Regions from separate parts of the Homo sapiens genome. Here region 1 is linked to region 2. The links come from fine-mapping of genetic effects on gene expression. Tissue or cell type: aorta. Region 2 holds a variant in brackets; the other region holds the start of a gene. All regions are shown on one strand. Distances are from middle to middle.

The links. PIP is the estimated chance that this variant, and not a neighbour inherited with it, causes the effect.
Region 1: MPDZ starts here. The variant in region 2 is fine-mapped to the expression of MPDZ in aorta (GTEx, PIP 0.99).

The regions. Positions count from the first base shown.
Region 1 is chr9:13,275,578-13,283,687 of GRCh38, forward strand. It overlaps MPDZ (multiple PDZ domain crumbs cell polarity complex component), which reads right to left and starts at 4,115. Exons shown (of 47, transcript NM_001378778.1): 1 at 3,823-4,115. RefSeq lists enhancers at 1,591-2,306, 2,307-3,022, 3,023-3,738.
Region 2 is chr9:13,034,538-13,042,647 of GRCh38, forward strand. It overlaps the pseudogene LOC100130801. Among named protein-coding and RNA genes, the nearest start is that of SNORD137, 66 kb to the left of the region's middle. RefSeq lists an enhancer at 3,032-3,548. The variant G/C (reference allele first, on the strand shown) is at 4,586.

The DNA.
Region 1 (8,110 bases), 240 kb after region 2:
AATGTGGAAGTGGCTTTGGAACTGGGTAATAGGTAATGGCTACAAACGTTTTAGGGTGCATGTTAGAAAAAGCCCAGATTGCACTGAAGAGGTTAACTCTCAGAAGGAAATGTGACTTGGGTTATTGGAAAGTGGAAACTTCAAGAGATAAAAGTCAGCCTATACTTCATTGCTCTCCATTAATTGCTCTTCCCTATCCAACCTTTTCCCCTGGGCACAAATCCTCTATTCCACTCCAGAAATATACAAATTGAATATGCTCTCCAGTACCCACTGCCCACTCACATCCCAGCCTCTTCTATACATGTCCATTTTCAAGGGAAAACCACTGACTTAAGCTCTACTTCATATCAAAAAAACTTTCATTTCCACCCTCTCATCTCAAGACCAAAGCCTTTCTGTGTCTTATTTACTAACCTCAATGATAAGAGCAACTAATCCCTATACTTCACTACTTTCCTAGAATCCCTGTAACATTTTTAACATGTAAAACCTTTCTGTTATTTCTCCCATTAGATTCCTCCAACTAAGACCCTACACTTCTGGAGCAGAATCATGTTTATTCTGTACTCTCCCCAATGCCTAACCCAATACAACATTCTTCCTAATCCATCTATTACTACCTACTACATGAATACCTCGGATCTTCTCTGGAAACGTATCACAGGAAGGCAATGGATTCCTCACCACTGGTTTCCTTTATCGAGAAGTAGTTATTTACCTCCTTAGTCTTATTCTCCCACATGGAATCCCACTAAAATTATTTAATCACAGTATATCAATTTTACCATGCTAAATATCATTTCCGAACTGTACTTATATAAATGCTCTCCTATGCATGACACTAATTTACAAGAAAAAATGAAACCTTTATTGTTATAAATATGGGGTTGATAATGTACGTAACAATATCAAATGAAATCCTACTTTAGGCCAAATATCTATTTTCAAAAGTACATACAACTGTTTTGGACATATATCATCACTCATACGCACCATCAAGCAGTCCTAAATTCACCAGGAAGTTGTCTGCTTCTTCTCTTTAAAGTGTAGGATCTTTCTCTGGCAGATGTGCTATTTGCTCTACCATATTTGGGGACATTCCAGTCCAACTTTGCCTCAAAATATTTCATGAAATTCAGAGTACTTTGTACGTTTCCAAATATACAAAATGTAGCCAACCTGCAACTCAACCTGAGAGAGACAAGACTATGTCAGATCTGGGATGTAATCTGGAGAAAATAATCTACCTCTAAGTGAGGATAGTTACCTTCCAGGCAATTCATTGTTCCTCTCCAGCTTTTAAATCCCTTAATCTCAATTCTAGACAATGGATTCACTTGATCATTTGTCAAGCAAAATCTCTCCACCCTAGCAGTTAAAAACTAAAAGTGGCCAACTAGACCTAAATCCATGTAAAGTTACATATCAAGGATTTCCAAGAGTCTCTCTGAATAGCTTCAACTTGTAGAAATATACTAAACTCTGAGACCAGCCTCTATTCCTCACAGTTAGGTACATTTAAATGCATCTGAAAAGGAAAGATGTCTTTAAGGGTCAAGCAGAGCAATGTCTAGGTGATAGGACTTTGAAGCACACTAAAAATTGACTAAAGATCCCTCCCTTTCCAAGCCACAACCTTCAGGCCTAGTCAATAAAAAGGAGTGTGGTAAAGGGACAAAGAAAACCAGAACTAGAGAAGGTAAGTGAAAAGAATAAACACAGAAAGGATCAAAGGAAAAAAAAAGGAACATATGTAAGAAATAAGGTACACCATAATCTATTAGTAATATGTTGAGAATAATCTTCATTAGTTTGTTTGTTTTGGCAAATGAGATAGGGAAGAAGAACGGAGAGTCAAGGGGTACCCAAAACTAGTTTTGCCTACATTGCACACAAGGGTACAGGTGCCTCCATCCAAAGCTTAGTATTGTATTAGAAGATCAAGTCAAGGAACGTTTTGCTAGGCTTTTATTTTTATTTTTTATTTATTTACTTATTTATTGAGTCAGAGTCTCGCTCTGTCACCCAGGCCGGAGTGCAGTGGCGCGATCTCGGCTCAATGCAACCGCTGCCTCCCGGGTTCAAGCGATTCTCCTGCCCCAGCCTCCCTAGTATCTGAGACTACAGGTGCGAGCCATCACGCTCCGCTAATGTTTGTATTTTTAGTAGAGACAGGGTTTCACCATGTTGGCCAGCCTGGTCTTGAACTCCTGACCTTAAGTGATCCACCCACCTCGGTCTCCCAAAGTGCTGGGATTACAAGCGTGAGCCATTGCGCCTGGCCAAGTTTTGCTAGGTTTTTAAAACACTATTGTTTGCCAAAATTCCATCAGGTGCTAAGGCATACATTATACAAATTTAGATAGTTCCAACATTACAAGATGTTCATTGTAATCACTCATACCCAAATTCAACATGTAAAACTCCCAAGCCCGAAACCATCACCTCCTCCTCGTTAGTTTTCAGATAAGGTGTTATTTATTCTATAAAGGGTAACCTAAACCAGGAATTTCTAGGGAAACACGAAGGGGATGTTTACATCAAACTGTCTACAAGGCAGGACGAGGCAGTCTGATCACTTATCAGATTCCTTCTCTATGACATCAAGGAACATGGAGAAGTTTTCCTTCTACGCTGGTGAAGTCATGGTCCTCTTATCTATCTGATGATACCTAGGAAACACTAGCCTCCAACCGCAGCCCCTACTGCAAAAAGGCAGTCAGTGCCCATTGCCGGGGTCTTCCCAAGCGGAGCACCTCAAAAGCCGCACCGCGCAGTAGAGGTCTCCAGGGGCCCCCACTCGCCCCCAGTGACTACGGAGCGGCCTCTACCTCCCGCCGGCGCCTGGCCACTTCTCCTCCCCCGCAGTCTCCGCTTGATTTCCATGTGACTGCAGGCAAGAATAGCCCAGCCTTTGTGCCTCTGCAAAGAACGCAAACAAAAATGTACACCATCACCACCCAACAAACGCGCAACTCCGCAAGACACAAAGCGTCTCCCAAACATCGCTTCCCTGGTAACATCCGGCATCCTGGGGCTGCCAAATCGCAGACAAAGACGCCCATCAGCGCGGGGGGTGAGGAGACTAAGGGAGAGACAAGACCAACGTGCTCCCACCAACGGGAGCGGCGGTTAAAAGGGCGCCGGTGCCAGGGGTGAGGGACGGGGCACCGGTACCAATTAGCGGCTCGCCTCGGGGTCCCCGCGGCTAAGGCGAGAACGCAGGACCAGGAGCATTGCTGCCCACTCTCTACCGCAACCCGCACATCCCGGGACCACGTAACGGCGGATGGGGCGTCCGGGAGCGGCCCCTGCAGGGGAGAGCAACAGGCTCCCGCGCCCTGGAGGCCTGGTCTGCGCTCCGGGCCCCCAGGCTAACACCCCACCCCCAGCCCCCCGACACCAAGACTGTGCCCCTCTGGGTCAAGGAAAAGGAAAAACTTTTAAACCTCTTAGTCAGCGAGAGCAAAAGAAAGGGGTGGCGGGGGTGCTGAAAGGTCTAGGATTATCCACCGCGGGGCTGGGGGGAGTGGAGACTTGCGAGTAGCAAAGGAAACTTCTAGACCCCATCCTTTTAAAAAAGCCACAGCAGCGGCTTCCGCGAAGCGCCGGGCCGCGCGGGGTGGGGCAAGCGCACCGCCCCACCGCCCCACGGCCCGCCGCCACCCCTACCCCCACCCCCACCCCCACCCCCATCCCCGCCCCCACCCCCACCCCCAAGCGCCGAGCCCAGGGCGCCCGCGCACCTTCCCCGCCGGCGCGCGCGCAGGGCGCGGGGGCGCGCCTCGGCCTCTGGGCCGGGGCTCAAGCGCCGCTTACCCGGCTCGCGGCGCCCGCCCAGGGCCGCGACGCGAGGGGGCGGAGGACTGGGGAGCAGGGGTCGCCGGGGCCTCTGGATGCCTCGCCTCGCCCACGCTCACTGTCTTCTCTTCTGAAGTAACGACCCGGCGAGGAGCTTCGGATCAAAACGCACAGACACTCACGCGTGACTGAGAAACTTAATCCCGCGGTGGCCCGACGCCAGCCTAGCGCTCCGCCGCGCCCCCTCCCCCAGCGCGCGCCGCACTTGCGCCGACCGGGGCTGCCGCGGAGGCGGTGGCGGGGCCCAGGCTGCTGGGGCTGCCGTGACGCCTGCGACCGGCGGGGCGGCGGGCGCGCCTTGGCCAATCAGGGGACGCGGCCGAGCAGGCCTGTGCGGGGTTTTAAACTCGCTCCTGGGCCGCTCGACCTGGGGTGTGGGTAGTGGACTTGTGAGGTGGTCAGATAAAATATAGGCTGCTCTGTTAAATGGGAATTTCAAATAAAAAAAAAAAGGAATAATTTTAGTACAAGTATATCCCATGCAATATTTGGGACGTACTTATGCTAAAAAGTTCTTCGTTGTTTATCGGAAATTCAAATTTAATGGCAGTCTTGTATTTTTATCTGCCGATTTTGTCAACCTGCGGAAACTGATAGCCTGTTTCTAGCTCCTCAGATTTTCCTTATGTGCACTGCCCTGTGGATGCTTTCTGCATGGGTAGCTTACTGAATGGCATAGGATGCTTATGAGAAGCGCTTTAATCAGAAGGGTGGGGGCAGTCCTCTCACTTTCTAAGTAACTTTTCGCACATCAGGGTGCATTCTTAGTCTGATGATCCAATTAAAAAGCAAAAACAGTAAACATGGAAAAGTTATTAGAGTTGCATGGCCCCAGGAAGAACAGATATTCATTTCTATTTTGTGCCACTTAAGATTTTCTTTCTGTTATCCTCAATTTGGAAGTCCCACGAATTTTTTTCTGCATAAGAAACTCTTTTTCAAAATATCCCTCTGATATTAGATTATAGGACCAAAGGATACTCAGAAGTCCAATTTAGAACATTTAAAAGAATTTCTTTTAATATTCTGAATAAAAATACTTTTTTCTCATATTCCTTGGACTTTCAAACACATTCACAGCTGTTGACCTCTCTCTTCCTAGAGTCCTCCCCACCCCACCCCTCTTGTAATTCCATGCAATCACACTCTTGGTTTTGCTTCTTCCGCTTAGTCAAGGGCGGATGTATGGGCTCTGAAGCTTGTACAATTGGGAGCTCTGCTTTAACCAAAAAAAAAAAAAAAATCTTTCTTTAGAAAAATTCAAAAAATAAATGCCCATGTAAACACATTGCTAGGGTTGCTCCCAGGCAAGAGAAGGACCCGGAACGTTAAGCTACATCAATTTCCAGGTAGATCTGCCCCTGTCCCCAGGCCACTCTTCAGTCTTCTTTGCCTCCTCTCCCCCAATCTTTAGATGCTGGAATTCCTTAAAAATCAGTTACGGGCCCTCTTTTCCTTTTAACTCTTACCTCTAAATACATTTTCACTTCTAGCTTATGATCTCGTACCTACAGAATCTTACATTTATACCTTCAGATTTATCCATATATTCAAGTGTTTATTTGGCTTCCCTGTTTGCTTGTCTCAAACCTAGATTGCAAAAAAAAATGCAGCCGTGATACTTCTGCTCAAGCCTGGTCATCTTGTTCAGTGTCCCAGTGAATGGAACTGCCATAGATGCTACATGATTCCCACAAACTACGATAAACCCATTGTGATGCATTCTTATGGTACCCTATGCTTTTGCTTCATAATATTTTTCCTACTTTGTAAATATGCATTTGATTTTGTAATTATGCAATGTCTCTTCCCTCTTCAACCATAAACTCCATGAGAACAGGGGCTAAGTCACCATTTTATCCTCAGAGCCTAGTAAAAACTTCACACTTGGTTGGCACTCATATGAAATAGGATGAATATACGACTGCAAGAATGAATAATTTCTCCATATAACTTTTGTGTTCTTGTCATAGAGTCACCTCAAGGCATCCCATTTGGAAAGGATTTTCTTATTGCTTAGAAATTCCAAAGGGATCCTCCTGTTTGAATAGCACTTCTACTTGTCAGTTTTCAAATCTGGTCATTCTCAAATACAAAGGAAGTACGTGCATGAAATGTTAGCTGCTGGGGTAGTGTAGGAGGAAAAGAATTTCATAACTAGCTACTGAAGGAATTCTTTGAGTCCTAAAATTTTAAATGGCATTTTTTATATTGAACCATAGGGAAAGAGCCCATAAAACTGAATTAGAGGAAAGTTTTAGAAATTTAATTCCCTGGTTTATTGTGGATAAATGAGATTAAAACAAATAATTTTACCTTGGTTTAAAAGGTGCTATTGTTCTAGTCTCCTTTAGCGAAGCAAAGCCCACATGCCCTCTTTAAACAGCAGTATATCAGAGGATAAAAAGGCATCTGGTTTAGATTAGTCCTTGCATAAAATTATCCAGAGTTTGGGGATAATTCCACCCTGAAGCTTCTCCTTTTGAAGTTAATCCGTATAGCTATTGCTCTATTCTCTTTAACTTGTTCTAATCCAGAAAACCTAAGATTTTCTAGAAATCCACCGGGGATATAGTGCACTAGTTTAAAAAAAAATACCTAAAATAAAAGTTAAAAACATTAAAGTTGAAATAAAATCTTGCAGAGAAAGACAAAGTGTAAAGCAGATAGAGTAGAGGTGCTCTACTCTATGGGATGGCTTGAAACCCCATACGTAAATAGATTAATAATGCTTTCTATTTCATGTTAATACAGGCTCTGGGGTCATTCCACCTATATCCTCAGTGAGGCATTCTCCACAATAATTTGTTTTTCTCAAATTTGAGTCATATTCAGAGGACTTTTATAAGGGAAAAAGTCCTGGAAACTTCTGAGATTGGTTTAAATTATTATTGTTGGTTTATTATTTATTGTTCATCATAATTGAACAGTACAAATATAAACTATGTATATGATATTATTTTACATTTGTGGCTCCTCTCCAACTCTAAAACTAGTGAAAGGCCCGGGTTATCTACTCAAAACCTTTAACGGCTGCTGAAAAGACAGATCCTGGAAATTAAACTTTTGATCCACCAAAATAACAGAGGATTCTTTTAGTTGCCTGCTGAGCACACAGTCTTCATTCTGCTTTTTAACAGCAGATAGCCAAGACGTAGGTGAGACCCCCATGCTGGGAGATGTTACTACAGAACTGCAGGGTTAGAACTCTATGAACCAAATCCTTTCCCAAGGACTGATTTGGGGTAATCCTAATAGTGGGGTGATGGGCTATTTTTATCACCTTTAGCCAGCAGTGACTCTTATTAATAATGCAGCATTTAAATGCAAACTAGATGGCATGCTTGCCAGTCCCTCTACCTAAGGGATATCTAATATATAACAACTGTGCAGTTTTAGTTTATTATAGTTTGTAGATTTTTTATGTTGTCTACTGGCTGACTGACTTTATGGTTTCAATTTGCCTCAGATGTCTCAATTAAAAGAAGAGTTCAGATAAATTTTTTTTCAGTTTGTTCAATGTTAAAAAGCATTTTAAATAATCCTTAATTTTTTCTCTCCATTGAAAAGAAGTCAAGGTTGAAAAAAGAAGATAAAGAAGAAAGAGAAGAACATTAGGATAATGGATATATATGTGTCTAGGAGAAAGCCATTAGGGGGAGAGAATGACTAAGAGAGAATCCCAGGAATGAGAAAAATGTAAAAATTATTTCTCTTTTGAGAACATACAGAGTAATCTGTCTCTCTTCATATAACAAACTGTTTATAGAGAGATAAAGGCTCTGAAATCTCCAGTGTGTCTGATTAGGCCTCATCTCTCTAAGCATGAAAGAAAGGGCATTGGGAGGTCATGACCTTCTGACCTTGAATTCATTTGCATTTGTACCCACAAAATTCTAACTCTATAAGGAAATTCCAGGAGAAAGCATTGGGGCCAGGTTAATTTTAGGAAGAAACACATCCAAACTGTTCCAGAATCTGTGCCTCAAGTTTATGCCAGCTAGAATGACATTTTGAACTATCTTACAAAATATCTTCCCTGTTATGCATACTCTGAGGGCATAAGTGAGTTATCCAAAAAGAAAATCAAGAAAAACAATAACAATAGTGAAAAGAATTTGTTCAAGTTGCATAGTATCTTTTAGGTAATACTCCCCCTTCATGATGGCAGAAAGAACAGAGGGGAAAAAATTGAGCTATTGAAAACACCACTGAGTCAGTGGATTATGTCTTACCTGAAGCCCAC
Region 2 (8,110 bases):
CAAGAAGCTGTCAGAACGGAACTGGGGTACTGTCCACCTGAAGCTGGTATTTTCTTTGTTCTGTGACAGGCCAAATTCTGTGTACTCCTTTTTTTTTTTTTTTTAGAAGAACATTTTGAATGCTGTTTAAATTGTGTATCTGTAGTTCAGGATAGTTATTTTTACTTTGCCCTTCATTGGCCCCTGCAAGTACCTATCCTTCCTAAGCAAAATAACCAAGAGAGCAAATGGTGTCCTAAGTCATTATAATCCCCTCAGCTAGGGAAATTGAAACCTAAGCCTTTGCCAACATATACAGAAGAAGTAGACAGTTACAGACGATTGCTACGTTCAGTGCAGATTGGAAAAGTTGGAGAACAAAAATAAGTTACATGATAATCACTTACCTGTTAAGAATTAAAAGTGAGTTTAGAAAGTAGATAACTAATGCAGTTTTAAAAAATGGAAAGAGTAGCCCGGCATGGTGGCTTGTGCCTGTAGTCCCAGCTGCTACAGAGTCTGAGCAGGGAGGATCACTTGAGCCCAGGAGGTCGAGGCTGCCGTGAGACATGATCACGCTACTGCACTTTAGCCTGGGTGGATGACAGAGAGACCCTATCTCAAAAAAAAAAAAAAAAAAGAAAGAAAGAAAGGGAATGGGGATAGAAGTTTTTAATTCAGTCTTTAAAGTGGGGTTTTCTTTTCTTTTTGATTGAGGCAAGCATTATATACGAGGGCTTGCTCCAAGGTTTATGTTTTGTTATAATTTACATTTAATAAAGTGTATTCATTTAAGGAAATAATCCAGTGAGTTTTGACAAATGTGTATACACTAATGTAAAACACTGCCACAATCAAGACGCATGACTTTTCCAATGCGTGAGAATGTTTCCTCATGATCTCTCAGGCCAGTCCCTGCCCTCACTGGTTTCTATTACCTGAGAACACTTCTACCTGACTTTGACCTTCATGTAAATGGACTCACACAGTATACATGCGTTTTTTGTGTCTGGCTTCTTTTGCCCAATATATTTTTGATGTTCATCCACACTGTAGAGTGCATTTGTACTTTATTCTTTTATTGCTGAATAGTGTTCAACTATATGAACATAATTTTTTATTCGTTTTCTTCGTAAATCCTTAAAATGTTTCCAGTTTTGACTACTATCACTAAAGCTTCCATAAACATTCTTATATATGTATTTGTGTGGATATATGCTTTCTTTTATTTAGGTGAATACCTAAGAGTGGAATTGCTGGGTCATAGGGAAGTTGTAGGTGTTTAATATTACAAGACACTGCCAACATTTTTCAAAGTGGTGGTGTTCCTTTCCTAGGAATTCCATAACAAAATACCAAAAACTGGGTGGATCAGAACAAGAGAAATTTATTCTCTGAGTTCAGGAGTCCAGGAGTCCAGTATCAAGGTGTTCTCAGAGCCACACTCCCTCTGACAGCTCTAGGAAAGAATCCTTCCTTGCCCCTTCCAACTTCTGGTGGTTGCTGGCAACCCTTGGCATTCCTTAGTTTGTGGCAGCATAATTTCAATCTCTGCCTCAAGCTCATCTGTCTTCACTTGGCCTCTTCCCTGTATGTCTCCTCTGTGTCTCTGTGTATCAATTTCCATCCTCTAATAAGGACACCAGTCATTTGATTTAGGACCCATTCTAAACCAGCATGACCTCATTATAACTTGATTACACCTGTAAATATCCCATTTTCAAATAAGGTCACATTCTGAGGTTCCAGTTAGACATGAAGTTGGGGGACACTATTCAACCCCATACAGTGGTTGAACAGTTTTACAATTTCCACCACATGTATGAGAATTCCAGTTTCTTCACATCCTCAGCAGTGCTGGATATTGTCATTGTCAATTCTAAAATTTTAGCCATTGTTGTGTGTGTGTAGTGGTACCTCATTTGGGCTTCAAATTTCAATTCCCAGATAACAATTGATGTTGAGCTTCTTTTCATGAACTTGGCCATTTAGGGATCTTCCTTTAGAAAAGTATCTGTCTTTTGCTCATTTAAAAATTAGGCTATTTTTCTTCTTTTAAATTGATTTTTAGGAGTTTTTTATGTCATTTTTAGGAGAGATAAATCGTTTGTCGGATACATGTATTGCAAATACTTTGTCTCCCAATCTGTGACTTCACTTTTCATTTCCTCTTTTTTTTTTTCTTTCTGAGATGGAGTCTCACTGTGTTGCCCAGGCTGGAGTGCAGTGGCACAATCTCGGCTCACTACAACCTCCACCACCCAGGTTCAAGCCATTCTCCTGCCTCAGCCTGCCAAGTAGCTGGGATTACAGGTGGCGATCACTGCAACCTGGCTAATATTTTGTATTTTTAGTAGAGATGGGGTTTTACCATGTTGGCCAGGCAGGTCTCAAACTCCTGACCTTAAGTGATCCACCCCCTGGGTCTCTCAAAGTGCTGGGATTACAGGTGTAAGCCACCATGCCCGGACCACTTTTCATTTTCTACAGTCTTTCAATCAATGGAAGTTTAATTCAGGTAAAGTCAAATTTTTAACTCTTTCCTTTATATTTATTGCTTTTTGTGTCCCCTCTGAGCAATCCACCCAAACTTAAAGCTGCAAAAATATTGCATTTTCCTCCAGAAGCTCTATAGTTTTACGGTACCACAATGATTCTAAGAGACCTGCAGCCCTAACCACATAGCTAAAACTATAATCTATCCTAAACTGATTTTTGCATATGCTGTAAGAATTAAAGTTCATTTTTTCCCCACATTTGTGTAGTTGTTGTGGCTCTATTTGTTGAAAAGAAACTTCTTTCTCCATTAAACAGCATTAACTGAAAAATTGTTGACTGTTTACGTTGTGTTGAAAATTAATTAATGGCATATATTTTGTTCCAACCATCTCCTTGCCTGCTCACGCCATATTGTTTAGGTTACTATCATTTTATAGTCTTAAAGTCAGATAGTGTGAGTCGTCCAACATTGTTCTTTTGACGGGTAGTATCGTCTCTTATAGATACTTTTCATTTGCATGTAAATTTCAGAATTAACTTTTCCGTTTCCACCAAAAAAGAAAAAATACCTTTTTGGATTTCACTGGGATTAAATTGAATTTATAGTAAGTAGGCTTTTTAATAGTTAATTTGTAAAACCCATTTCTTGCTCAGAAAGCCTCATCTTCTAATCTTATTTAATTTTCCCAAAAGTGTCTTGTTTTTGAAAAATATGTATAAATGTCTCAAGCCAGATCAGAACCTATTTTGAAAATCTTGGAAATCATCCAATCCATTTTAAGCAACTCTGCCTTGAAAAAAGAAACTTCTTCCCGATAATTTAAGTCTGTGGAAAGATTTTTCTGACATTAAAAAATGTACATACTTGGAGGGAGGAGCCAAGATGGCCGAATAGGAACAGCTCCGGTCTACAGCTCCCAGCGTGAGCGACGCAGAAGACGGGTGATTTCTGCATTTCCATCTGAGGTACCGGGTTCATCTCACTAGGGAGTGCCAGACAGTGGGCGCAGGCCAGCGGGTGCGCGCACCGTGCTCGAGCCGAAGCAGGGCGAGGCATTGCCTCACTCGGGAAGCGCAAGGGGTCAGGGAGTTCCCTTTCCGAGTCAAAGAAAGGGGTGACGGACGCACCTGGAAAATCGGGTCACTCCCACCCGAATACTGCGCTTTTCTGACCGGCTTAAGAAACGGCGCACCACGAGACTATATCCCACACCTGGCTCGGCGGGTCCTACGCCCACGGAGTCTCGCTGATTGCTAGCACAGCAGTCTGTGATCAAACTGCAAGGCGGCAGCGAGGCTGGGGGAGGGGCGCCCGCCATTGCCCAGGCTTGCTTAGGTAGACAAAGCAGCCGGGAAGCTCGAACTGGCTGGAGCCCACCACAGCTCAAGGAGGCCTGCCTGCCTCTGTAGGCTCCACCTCTGGGGGCAGGGCACAGACAAACAAAAAGACAGCAGTAACCTCAGCAGACTTAAATGTCCCTGTCTGACAGCTTTGAAGAGAGCAGTGGTTCTCCCAGCACGCAGCTGGAGATCTGAGAACGGGCAGACTGCCTCCTCAAGTGGGTCCCTGACCCCTGACCCCCGAGCAGCCTAACTGGGAGGCACCCCCCAGCAGGGGCACACTGACATCTCACATGGCAGCATATTCCAACAGACCTGCAGCTGAGGGTCCTGTCTGTTAGAAGGAAAACTAACAAACAGAAAGGACATCCACACCAAAAACCCATCTGTGCATCATCATCATCAAAGACCAAAAGTAGATAAAACCACAAAGATGAGGAAAAAAGAGAACAGAAAAACTGGAAACTCTAAAAAGCAGAGCGCCTCTCCTCCTCCAAAGGAACGCAGTTCCTCACCAGCAACGGAAGAAAGCTGGATGGAGAATGACTTTGACGAGCTGAGAGAAGAAGGCTTCAGACAATCAAATTACTCTGAGCTACGGGAGGACATTCAAACCAAAGGCAAAGAAGTTGAAAACTTTGAAAAAAATTTAGAAGAATGTATAACTAGAATAACCAATACAGAGAAGTGCTTAAAGGAGCTGATGGAGCTGAAAACCAAGGCTCGAGAACTACGTGAAGAATGCAGAAGCCTCAGGAGCCGATGC[G/C]ATCAACTGGAAGAAAGGGTATCAGCAATGGAAGATGAAATGAATGAAATGAAGCGAGATGGGAAGTTTAGAGAAAAAAGAATAAAAAGAAATGAGCAAAGCCTCCAAGAAATATGGGACTATGTGAAAAGACCAAATCTACGTCTGATTGGTGTACCTGAAAGTGATAGGGAGAATGGAACCAAGTTGGAAAACACTCTGCAGGATATTATCCAGGAGAACTTCCCCAATCTAGCAAGGCAGGCCAACATTCAGATTCAGGAAATACAGAGAACGCCACAAAGATACTCCTCAAGAAGAGCAACTCCAAGACACATAATTGTCAGATTCACCAAAGTTGAAGTGAAGGGAAAAACGTTAAGAGCAGCCAGAGAGAGAGGTCGGGTTACCCTCAAAGGGAAGACCATCAGACTAACAGCAGATCTCTTGGCAGAAACCCTACAAGCCAGAAGAGAGTGGGGGCCAATATTCAACATTCTTTAAGAAAAGAATTTTCAACCCAGAATTTCATATCCAGCCAAAGTAAGCTTCATAAGTGAAGGAGAAATAAAATCCTTTACAGAAAAGCAAATGCTGAGAGATTTTGTCACCACCAGGCCTGCCCTAAAAGAGCTCCTGAAGGAAGCGCTAAACATGGAAAGGAACAACGGGTACCAGCCGCTGCAAAATCATGCCAAAATGTAAAGACCATCGAGACTAGGAAGAAACTGCATCAACTAACGAGCAAAATAACCAGCTAACATCATAATGACAGGATCAAATTCACACATAACAATATTAACTTTAAATGTAAATGGACTAAATGCTCCAATTAAAAGACATAGACTGGCAAATTGGATAAAGAGTCAAGACCCATCAGTGTGCTGTATTCAGGAAACCCATCTCACGTGCAGAGACACACATAGGCTCAAAATAAAAGGATGGAGGAAGATCTACCAAGCAAATGGAAAACAAAAAAAGGCAGGGGTTGCAATCCTAGTCTCTGATAAAACAGACTTTAAACCAACAAAGATCAAAAGAGACAAAGAAGGCCATTACATAATGGTAAAGGGATCAATTCAACAAGAAGAGCTAACTATCCTAAATATATATGCACCCAATACAGGAGCACCCAGATTCATAAAGCAAGTCCTGAGTGACCTACAAAGAGACTTAGACTCCCACACATTAATAATGGGAGACTTTAACAGCCCACTGTCAACATTAGACAGATCAACGAGACAGAAAGTCGACAAGGATACCCAGGAATTGAACTCAGCTCTGCACCAAGCAGACCTAATAGACATCTACAGAACTCTCCACCCCAAATCAACAGAATATACATTTTTTTCAGCACCACACCACACCTATTCCAAAATTGACCACATAGTTGGAAGTAAAGCTCTCCTCAGCAAATGTAAAAGAACAGAGATTATAACAAACTTATCTCTCAGACCACAGTGCAATCAAACTAGAACTCAGGATTAAGAATCTCACTCAAAACCGCTCAACTTCTTGGAAACTGAACAACCTGCTCCTGAATGACTACTGGGTACATAACGAAATGAAGGCAGAAATAAAGATGTTCTTTGAAACCAACGAGAACAAAGACACAACATACCAGAATCTCTGGAACACATTCAAAGCAGTGTGTAGAGGGAAATTTATAGCACTAAATGCCCACAAGAGAAAGCAGGAAAGATCCAAAACTGACACCCTAACATCACAATTAGAAGAACTAGAAAAGCAAGAACAAACACATTCAAAAGCTAGCAGAAGGCAAGAAATAACTAAAATCAGAGCAGAACTGAAGGAAATAGAGACACAAAAAACCCTTCAAAAAATTAATGAATCCAGGAGCTGGTTTTTTGAAAGGATCAACAAAATTGATAGACCACTAGCAAGACTAATAAAGAAAAAAGAGAGAAGAATCAAATAGACACAATAAAAAATGATAAAGGGGATATCACCACCAATCCCACAGAAATACAAACTACCATCAGAGAATACTACAAACACCTCTATGCAAATAAACTAGAAAATCTAGAAGAAGTGGAGAAATTCCTCGACACATACACCCTCCCAAGACTAAACCCGGAAGAAATTGAATCTCTGAATAGACCAATAACAGGATCTGAAATTGTGGCAATAATCAATAGCTTACCAACCAAAAAGAGTCCAGGACCAGATGGATTCACAGCCGAATTCTACCAGAGGTAGAAGGAGGAACTGGTACCATTCCTTCTGAAACTATTCCAATCAATAAAAAAAGAGGGAATCCTCCCTAACTCATTTTATGAGGTCAGCATCATTCTGTTACCAAAGCCTGGCAGACACACAACCAAAAAAGAGAATTTTAGACCAATATCCTTGATGAACATTGATGCAAAAATCCTCAATAAAATACTGGCACAACGAATCCAGCAGCACATCAAAAAGCTTATCCACCATGATCAAGTGGGCTTCATCCCTGGGATGCAAGGCTTGTTCAATATACGCAAATCAATAAATGTAATCCAGCATATAAACAGAGCCAAAGACAAAAACCACATGATTATCTCAATAGATGCAGAAAAAGCCTTCGACAACATTCAACAACCCTTCATGCTAAAAACTCTCAATAAATTAGGTATCGATGGGACGTATTTCAAAATAATAAGAGCTATCTATGACAAACCCACAGCCAATATCATACTGAATGGGCAAAAACTGGAAGCATTCCCTTTGAAAACTGGCACAAGAAAGGGATGCCCTCTCTCACCACTCCTATTCAACATAGTGTTGGAAGTTCTGGCCAGGGCAATTAGGCAGGAGAAGGAAATAAAGGGTATTCAATTAGGAAAAGAGGAAATCAAATTGTCCCTGTTTGCAGATGACATGATTGTATATCTAGAAAACCCCATCGTCTCAGCCCAAAATCTCCTTAAGCTGATAAGCAACTTCAGCAAAGTCTCAGGATACAAAATCAATGTACAAAAATCACAAGCATTCTTATACACCAACAACAGACAGAGAGCCAAATCATGAGTGAACTCCCATTCACAATTGCTTCAAAGAGAATAAAATACCTAGGAATCCAACTCACAAGGGATGTGAAGGACCTCTTCAAGGAGAACTACAAACCACTGCTCAAGAAAATAAAAGAGGATACAAACAAACAGAAGAACATTCCATGCTCATGGGTAGGAAGAATCAATATCGTGAAAATGGCCATACTGCCCAAGGTAATTTACAGATTCAATGCCATCCCCATCAAGCTACCAGTGCCTTTCTTCACAGAATTGGAAAGAACTACTTTAAAGTTCATATGGAACCGAAAAAGAGCCCGCATCGCCAAGTCAATCCTAAGCCAAAGGAACAAAGCTGGAGGCATCACACTACCTGACTTCAAACTATACTACAAGGCTACAGTAACCGAAACAGCATGGTACTGGTACCAAAACAGAGATATAGATCAATGGAACAGAACAGAGCCCTCAGAAATAACGCCGCATATTTACAACTATCTGATCTTTGACAAACCTGAGAAAAACAAGCAATGGGGAA